2 separate regions of the Homo sapiens genome follow, and region 1 is linked to region 2. Evidence: fine-mapped expression QTL. A gene starts in region 2. The other region holds a variant in brackets. All regions are shown on one strand. Distances are between the middles of the regions. Region 1 has its middle 23 kb from the start of SEC14L1. Region 2 holds the start of SEC14L1 (SEC14 like lipid binding 1).

Evidence for each region. PIP is the estimated chance that this variant, and not a neighbour inherited with it, causes the effect.
Region 1: its variant is fine-mapped to the expression of SEC14L1 in whole blood (TOPMed, PIP 0.92).

What each region holds. Positions count from the first base shown.
Region 1 is chr17:77,116,248-77,120,632 of GRCh38, reverse strand. It overlaps a transcript of SEC14L1 not described here. Among named protein-coding and RNA genes, the nearest start is that of SEC14L1, 23 kb to the left of the region's middle. The variant G/A (reference allele first, on the strand shown) is at 2,458.
Region 2 is chr17:77,138,222-77,142,606 of GRCh38, reverse strand. SEC14L1 (SEC14 like lipid binding 1) reads right to left here and starts at 1,638. Exons shown (of 17, transcript NM_001143998.2): 1 at 1,500-1,638. LOC105371901 (a long non-coding RNA gene) reads left to right here and starts at 1,168. Exons shown (of 5, transcript XR_934988.3): 1 at 1,168-1,251. RefSeq lists silencers at 866-1,160, 1,325-1,774, 1,785-1,994, 2,145-2,354.

The sequences.
Region 1 (4,385 bases), 22 kb after region 2:
TGGTGGCACGCACCTGTAATCCCAGCTACTTGGGAGGCTGAAGCAGGAGAATCGCTTGAACCTGGGAGGCAGAGGTTACAGTGAGCCGAGATCGTGCCACCGCACTCCAGCCTGGGCGACAGAGCAAGACTTCATTAAAAAAAAAAAAAAGAATGTGGAGAGAAGGATCAGAAACTCCGGGGCAGCCTCAGGTTGTGGATGCATTCCCTAGTTGGGGAGTAGAACACGCAGACACACAGCGACGTTCTAGACCTCTGTCCTCGTCCCTCTGTGATGGCACTGTGGTTGTGACATGCTCCAGGAAATCCCTAGCTGAGCTCCTACGTGAGTGGCAAAACAAGGCGGTTAGAACGCTTCATGCCTAGATGTACATGTCTAATGGGCACTTCATGATTCACTTTTTTTAAATTTATTTTTTATTTCTAAAGATAGGATGTCTCACTATGTTGCTCAGGCTGGTCTTGAACTCCCGAGCTCAAGGGATCTGCTCACCTCAGCCTCCCAAAGTGCTGGGATTTACAGGCGTGCACCACCACACCTGGCCATGATTCACATTTTTAAGACGATGTTTGTCAGTCTAATCTCCAGTCGATGGGCTCTCAGGCAGTATAACAAATGAGCTGAAAATGTTTTCAGTGCAATACGGGAAAGTATTCTTAGGGCAAATCCAGACTGAGGGTCAGGGCAGCCTGGGGAATGTCCCAAAGGTCAGATTCCCGAAGTTGTTCCTGACATTCCAAGCTGCTGCCTTTTCTGTGGCATTGGTTCAGAATGTATTTGCGAAGGTTCTAATTCTTCTCATAGTGACAGCTTTGGCAAGGGTGGGTGGAGCTGGTAGGTTTAAGTGCAGGTGGGTTTATGTAATCCAGGGATTATGTACATAATAGAAGTATGAACTGCTGGAGTGTAAGGGCCGTTTGAGGCAAGCCAGCCTGGGGCCCTCTCCTTATCAGTGAAAATATTAATTGCCTGCAATTAGAGATGATATTTCACATTCACTCAGCATAAATTATTTCATCAAATACATACTCTTTGATCCTGTAGGTGGATAAAATAAATACTGCTTCTCATCCTGCCAGAGAGCTTATTACCTCCTTGACAACAGCCACGTCTGCTCTTTCACAGGGATACCGGCTCCTTGATGGTGCTCCTCCATCTAACTTTGTTTAATTTAACGCCAATGAGGACCAGGTGTGATTTGAAACATCCTTCCAACCCCTGAAAGGTATTCCTTCCTGGGTAGGACAGAGTCTGGAATTCGCCCGTAATCCCTAAGGACAGGTGACCCAGTGATTGTCCAGGCTGTATTTTTTTTTTTTTTTTTTGGGATGGAGTCTCACTCTGTCACCCAGGCTGGAGTGCAGTGGCGCAATCTCGGCTCACTGCAACCTCTGCCCCCCAGATTCAAGCAGTTCTCGTGTCTCAGCCTCCCAAGTAGCTGAGATTAGAGGCGCATGCCCACACTCGGCTAATTTTTGTATTTTTAGTAGAGACAGGGTTTCACTATGTTACCCAAGCTGGTCTCAAACTCCTGAGCTCAGGCAATCCACCCGTCTCGGCCTCCCAAAGTGCTGGGATTACAGACATGAGCCACTGTACCCGGCCTGTACAGGCTGTATTTTTCTTCCTTCATCAATGCATGCAGAGGTTTGTTTTCTGAGATGTTAAGCAAGCTTTTGGGATGCTTCTTGGGAAGTCAGCAAAGCCAGGGCTTCCTTCATCCCGCTGAAGGTGGTGGGATGGTTTCTGGAAAGTACTAGCTATTTCTTTCCCATGCTAAGCCTCTTGGGATCACTTTGCCAGTCAAAGCCTGTGCTCCCTGCATAATCAGAGAGGAATGCTGTAAAGAGGCGATGGTGATTGACAGCAGCTTCTAGGTGCACCGCCTGCATGCACGCCTGCTACGAACATCTGAACAATTACAGGAAGGAGGCTGTCGAAATGCATAATTATAACCTTGACTTAGAAAAAGCATGATCTTCTCTGGTTGGGGCCGAGGCTTTCCTTACGTTAAGCGCATTCCCAGACCAGCAACTGGAGTGCTCCGTACATTGGACGTGGCAGCATCTGGAATATTACATAACAGAAGCATGTCCATTGCCCTTGGAACGTATGAGGCTCGGGGACAGTCCTCCACTCGGTGGAGACTACAAGGTCTCATTAATGAGTCACCTTTGTTCCCTTTTCCATCCTTTATAATTAGGGTGACATACATTCCATTTGGCCCAGGACAGTCTCCATATGTGCCTACTGAACGAAGGTGGTAATTAACAAGGCCTCCTTCACTCTCCGAAGGGACCTGACTGGGAGATAAACTCAGAGATCACTGATTTGTAATCCTCAAGGAGGACGGAGACAACGCCCAGGTGGCCATGGGCACCCTTGAAAGACCGCCTAGGTAAGAAGGCTTCAGGATAAACGATAGGGAAAAGCTGTTCCAGCCCCTTCCACAGTGCG[G/A]CCTGCCGCACTCACCCTTAATGGCTCTGAGCACATGCTCCCAGCTACTGGGACACTGGCATGAACAGCATGAGCCAGGTGGGCCTGATGGCCTAGTCAGTATGCCCAGATGGAAAAAATCAAATGATTCCCGCTGTCCAGTTGACCCTGAAGCTGACTGAGATTAGATGAAGCTTTGCTGTTTGGCGTCCAAGCCTTGGGCTCCCAGTCCTAGGTTCGAGAGAACTTCAGTGCCAGCCTTGTGTAGGGGGAGGTGAGGGATCCACCAGGGCAGTCTTGTTTTTAGGGCCTTCTTATCATGCTGGGTCCCATGGAGGCCCACTGCAAAAGGCCAAATCATTCTGTCATTCTGCATAGTCTCCCTTAAAGTGGTGGGAACGAAGAAGGAGGCACAGGAGATAATATTCAGGGAGTCTCAAAGACCAAAAGGTCCCCAAACGAAGCCCCTTTGCCCAACTTCATTGGAATGAAAGACTTTCTTATCCCTCAAGCCTACCAAATATTTCTTCCTGCAGGAGCTGGCCAGGGTCAGTAGGGCTGGGTTTTCTTGAGCAATTCATTGGTGACAGGCCAACTCCATGGGGAAAATTCTCATCTAAGAGTTGATCTGTGAAGTTATGCTAATTCATCAGCCCTGTCTAAAAGCTTCAGGGCAATTGATTAGGCTGTCAAACATTCATTTGGCCTGTGAGAATAGCTTATTATTTCTTTTTAAAATACCAATCTCTTGGAAAGATGTCGATTGGGTTTCTACGTGCACCCCAACGGTGCCTCTGTGTAGAGCTTACTTCAGCTGCATTTTTTTTGTTTTGTTTTGTTCTGCTTTTCTGAGACAGAGTCTCGCTCTGACACCCAGGCTGGAGTGCAGTGGCTCGATCTTGGCTCACTGCAACCTCCACCTCTCGGGTTCAAGCAATTCTCCCTCCTCAGCCTCCCAAGTAGCTGGGACTATAGGCATGTGTCACCATGCCCGGCTAATTTTGTATTTTTAGTAGAGACAGGGTTTTACCATGTTGGCCAGGCTGGTCTCGAACTCCTGACCTCACGTGATCCACCCGCCTCGGCCTCCCAAAATGCTGGGATTACAGGCATGAGCCACTGCGCCCGGCCTTCCATTGCATTTACTGCAGGGAATAGATAAAGACGGAAAACTGTTGGGTAAATGGAACTCAACTAACACCAGAGACAGCCAATTACAGCAAATGAAGAGGATGCTTACCATTTAATTTTGTAAAGATGGGGTGTCCGCCTGGAATCATGGTCCAAAAATCCTCCCACCCATGGCCCCAGCCCCCTCTCACAGCTGCAGTGGTGGATGAGACAGGGGACTTCTACAGTCCCACTTACCCCAGAGCATCCTGCCAGGTAAGCTCCTTACAGACATGAAAGAGGGTTGTGGAAAAGTCCATGAAATTCCAAGTTTGTTCAAACATCCTGTTACTGATAAAAATGTCCCTTCAAATTCCAAATTGGCTTTGTAGCAAATTTATGTCTGTACTACTTCTCAGACTTGTAAAACACAATATGCAAACAATGATGAAAAATATGAGCCTTTCAGTTTTACTCTGCCCCAAGAGCCAGGGGCTGAAAACCAGGTCCGTCACATGGCTCTCTGTTCAGACAGGAGCAGGTGCCTCCTCCCAAGTTCCCACTCCAGAACTTTACTTTGAGCCTCTTCCAACTGGAAGGTCTTTTCTCCCAACCTCTGCCCTCCACAATCCCACACCATCCTTCCCGGTTCATTTCCTCTGTGTGACACCGAGATTTAAGGGTCAGAATTAATTTCTCCTTCTTCTGGGTTCTGGCTCCGGGTTTTACTCACATCATTATTATAGTTCTCACAACAGGCTGCCTTATTTAGGGATTCCTCAGGCACACAAATTTCTTGCAACAGCAAAGACCCCTAAAACGTTTAAATCAATGTGAAT
Region 2 (4,385 bases):
ATTTTATTTCAGAAACTTCCAAGATTCCTTTTTTTTTTTTTTTTTTTTTGAGACAGGGTGTCTCTCTGTTGCCCAAGGTGGAACACAGTGGCACAATCTCCACTCACTGCAGCCTCCACCTTCTAAGCTCAAGTGATCCTCCTGCCTCAGCCTCCCAAGTAGCTGGGACCACAGGCACGCACCACCATATATATTTTTTGTAGAAGGTTTCCCCATGTTGCCCAGGCTGGTCTCAAACTCCTGGGCTCAAGGGATCTGCCCACTTCAGCCTCCCAAAGTGCTAGGATTATAGTCATGAGTCACGGCGCCTGGTATAGAATTCCCATCTATAGTACTAAGGTTTAAACAGGTTTGGAACTTTCTCTGGTATGTCTGGCATACCTCTCAGAGGAGAGGTCATGGTGGAAAACATCGCCATCTGACAGTGTGAAAACGGCTAAGGAATGACTCTGGGTGACCACGAGTAAGCCATTTGACTTCCCTAGGACTCAGTTTCATCTCTGTAAAATGAGGTTTTCGGGGAGATGATCTTGAAAGACTTCCACCTCTAAAACCATGAGAATGAGAGCCAAACTCCCAAGTTCTCCAAACTCAACTTGAAGCTTTTCTAATATTCATCTTGATTATGCGACTGACACATCCTGATGTGCTGGGACCACGTTCTTTTTCTTTTGCAAACCTTACAGTGTTGGTGCACAGTGGGAATCCAATCATCTTTTAAAAATTTAATTGGGAATATTAATTTTAGGGTACTCTCCCAGATATGAGGACGATAACCGGGTACAAACAAGAGTTGGGGGAAGAAGCAAAAAAGCGTAATGCTCGTTTAAGAAACGGTAACATCCATTCAGGATTCCACCGCCTGGCAGAACTGGCTACACTCACTTAAGAACCTGCTAATTCACGAGCTTGTGAACCACAGCCAGGTCTCAGCTGCCGATGCTCTGGTCCAGATAAACGCCCTACGCGGGCATCCGGAGTGACAACGACCAAGTGGCATCCAGGAGCCGGACGGCCTCCATTGCATGACAATCGCTGTTTAAACAGGAGCCAAAGGCCAGACCCACTGAACGCATCCCGAGCAGGCTCGAGGGGCGGCCGGCGCCCGGGGCTGCTCAGCAGGGGTCCCGCGCGGCTGAGCCCCACGGGGCCAAAGCCCCGACCGACGGGAGAGAGGGGCGGGCACTGGCTCCGGACCCGAAACTCCGCTCTCAGCAAAAAGCGGCTCCCGGGAACTGGAAGCCTGGCGAGGTGGGGGTGGGGGCGGGGGAGGGGGGCGAGGGGCGGCGAGGGGCGAGCAGGGGGGCGGAGGGCGAGCAGGGGGGCGGGGGCACGGCCCGTTTCGGGTGCCGGGCCGATGGCAGCCGGGGCTGGGGAGGGACAGGCTCAGCAAGCGGGCGGCCGGGAGTTCCGGGGGGCCCGCCCGAGAGGCGCCGGACTCCACGGAGACCGGGACCGGGGCGAGGGCGCACTCGGACCCGCCGCGACGACGCGCCTACCTCTTGTCAGAAAGGCCGGGCCTGGGACACGGGGTGGCGAGGGGCGCTCATACCGGCGGCTCCGCGGGGCAGTCTCGGTTCCACTGCTCCGCGACCGTAGCTCGACCGCCGGTTCCGGGGAGGGGGCCGGGGAGGCGGGAGGGGGAAGGGGCGCGGCGACGGCACTTGTGGTTGTTACGGGTGACGGGGTGGGCGGGGCCGGGCGCCGGGAGGGGCGCGCGTGCGCGGCCGCGGCCGAGGGAGCGGGGGCGGGAGCGGGCGATGGTTGCTAAGAAAGGGGAGGGGGGAGGACACCCGGGGCCCGAACTGCGCAGGCGCGAGCTCCGACCCGCGAGCGTGGGAGGAGCTCGGAGAAGGCGCCGGCCCCGTCGCACTGCTGGATGTGCCCGAGGTCCTCGTGGCCCCTCCCAGTTTTGCGTCACTTGTTGGGGGCGGGGCCGGGCTGGGCTTCGCGAGTAGCGGGCGGAGGCGGAGTGAAGCCCCAAGGGGCTGCCGGCGTGCAGGGGAGGGGTTCGGCTGAGCGGGAAAAGGGAAGTTTGCGGGAGGTCAAAACCACCGGGGCCCTCCCGTATGGCTGCTGCTCTGAGGCCTGCCTCTGGTCGCCCTGGCGGCTGCCCCCGTGCTTCCTCATTTCTTGTTGACTGTTCAGGAGCACCAGGCTGCTCGCGCCAGTGCCCCGACCGCATTCTCGCCGAGTAATGGGGAGGAGGCGGACGCCGGTGCTGCGCGGCCCAGGGCTCGGGAGGGCCCGGGTGAGCCCGGGTGGAGCCCAGCGGCATCCTTGTCAACACATCCAGACGGCTCTAGTGTCGGGCCGCGGGCTTGAAACTGAGACGCGCGCCCAGGGCCTGCCCCTCGGAAACGAGGGTGCCAAGGTGGGGCTGCTAAGTAGCTCCCGAATTTCAGCAGGAGAGCACCGTCCAGCCCCAATTTTCAATCCGGTACCACTGAGACATTTTGGGGTCCTTAAGAGGAGCTCATGACTAGAAAGGGGCACCTCGCATGCCCACCCACACAGCAAAGCTGGTTTTATAACCAACATGCAATTTCACTGTCAAAGTCACTGTTGTTCCGTTCACATTAGTCACCCTGAGTGGCTGTACATTTCATGCTGCCATTGGACAGAACGTTTTTGGACCTGTTTAGGAATTTCCATCAAAGCCAGTTTACCAGACACACAAGCAAATCATTCATGGCCTCATCACCCCTTGTGTTCCACGTCAAACCATCATCTTCCAGCTGGGTCACCTACATTATTCACTACATTCAGTCTGACTGGCTTTTGCTTGTTTGTAGAAATCACATCCACCGGCCGGGCGCGGTGGCTCACGCCTGTAATCTCAGCACTTTGGGAGGCCGAGGTGGGCGGATCACGAGGTCAGGAGATCGAGACCATCCTGGCTAACACGGTGAAATCCCTGTCTCTACTAAAAATACAACAGATTAGCCGGGCGTGGTGGCGGGCGCCTGTAGTCCCAGCTACTTGGGAGTCTGAGGCAGGAGAATGGCGTGAACCCTGGAGGCAGAGCTTGCAGTGAGCCGAGATCGCGCCACTGCACCCCAGCCTGGTCGACAGAGCGAGACTCCGTCCCAAAAAAAAAAAAAAAAATCACATCCACCTTCAAAAGACGCTTTAACGCCGTTGCGGTGGCTCACGCCTGTAATCCCAACAGTCTGGGAGACCTAGGTGGGTGGATCACCTGAGGTCAGGAGTTTGAGACCATCCTGGTCAACACGGTGAGACCTCGTCTCCACTAAAAATACAAAAAGTAGCCGGGTGTGGTGCCAGATGCCTGTAATCCCAGCTACTTGGGAGGCTGAGGCAGGAGAATCACTTGAACCTGGGCAGAGGTTGCAGTGAGGCAAGATCACGCCACCTGCCCTGCACTCCAGCCTGGGCTGGACTCCAGCAAGACTCCGTGTCAAAAAAAAAAAAAAAAAAAAAAATTCACCTGACCTGCTGAACTTCTAGATGCAACCACCAGTTTACAGGAAATACAGAATAGAGGAACATGCTAAATGACACCATGAAAAACAATTGGCAAAGTACAGACTGTGGGAAACGGTACAAGACAAATATATTCTTTATCAAATTCCAAAGGAAAAAAAGAGGGGAATGGTCAATCTATAGATTAAAAGAGATTGGGAAATTTGTTGAGCCATACATTCATTTATGATTTGCAAGCTTTTATATGTATATTATACTTCAGTTAAACATTTTGAAGAAAAAACAGACTTGAGACATCAACCAATCACAAAAAACTTTATTTCCATTTTTTTTTTCTTGAAACAGTCTCACTCTGTTCCCCAGGCTTGAGGGCAGTGGCATAATCATAGCCGTCTGCAGCATCATCACCTGGCCTCAAGTGAACCTCCCACCTCAGCCTTCTGAGTAGCTGTGACTACAGGCATGTGCCACCACGCCTGGCTACTTTTTGCTATTTTTTTCCTTAGGTTTTTTTTGTTTTTTTGTTTGTTTGTTTGTTTTGAGATGGAGTCTTACTCTGTTGCCCAGGCTGGAGTGCAGTGGCACGATCTTGGCTCACTGCAACCTCCACCTCCTGGGTTCAAGTGATTCTCCTGCCCTCCTGCCTCAGCCTCCCGAGTAGCTGGGATTACAGGCGAGTGCCCAGCTAATTTTTTTATTTTTAGTAGAGACGGGCTTTCACCATGTTGGTCAGGCCGGTCTCAAACTCCTGACCTTGTGATCTGCCTGCCTCAGCCTCCCAGAGTGGTGGTATTACAGGAGTGAACCACAGCACCCTGCCCACCAACCTCCTACTTGCCTGGGGACTAGATTGCCTTTGTAGGACTAACATTAGCCACAAATTAGAAATTATGGTTTAGGAGTCATGCAGCTGGAGGCTACAAGATTCTGACCCTCCC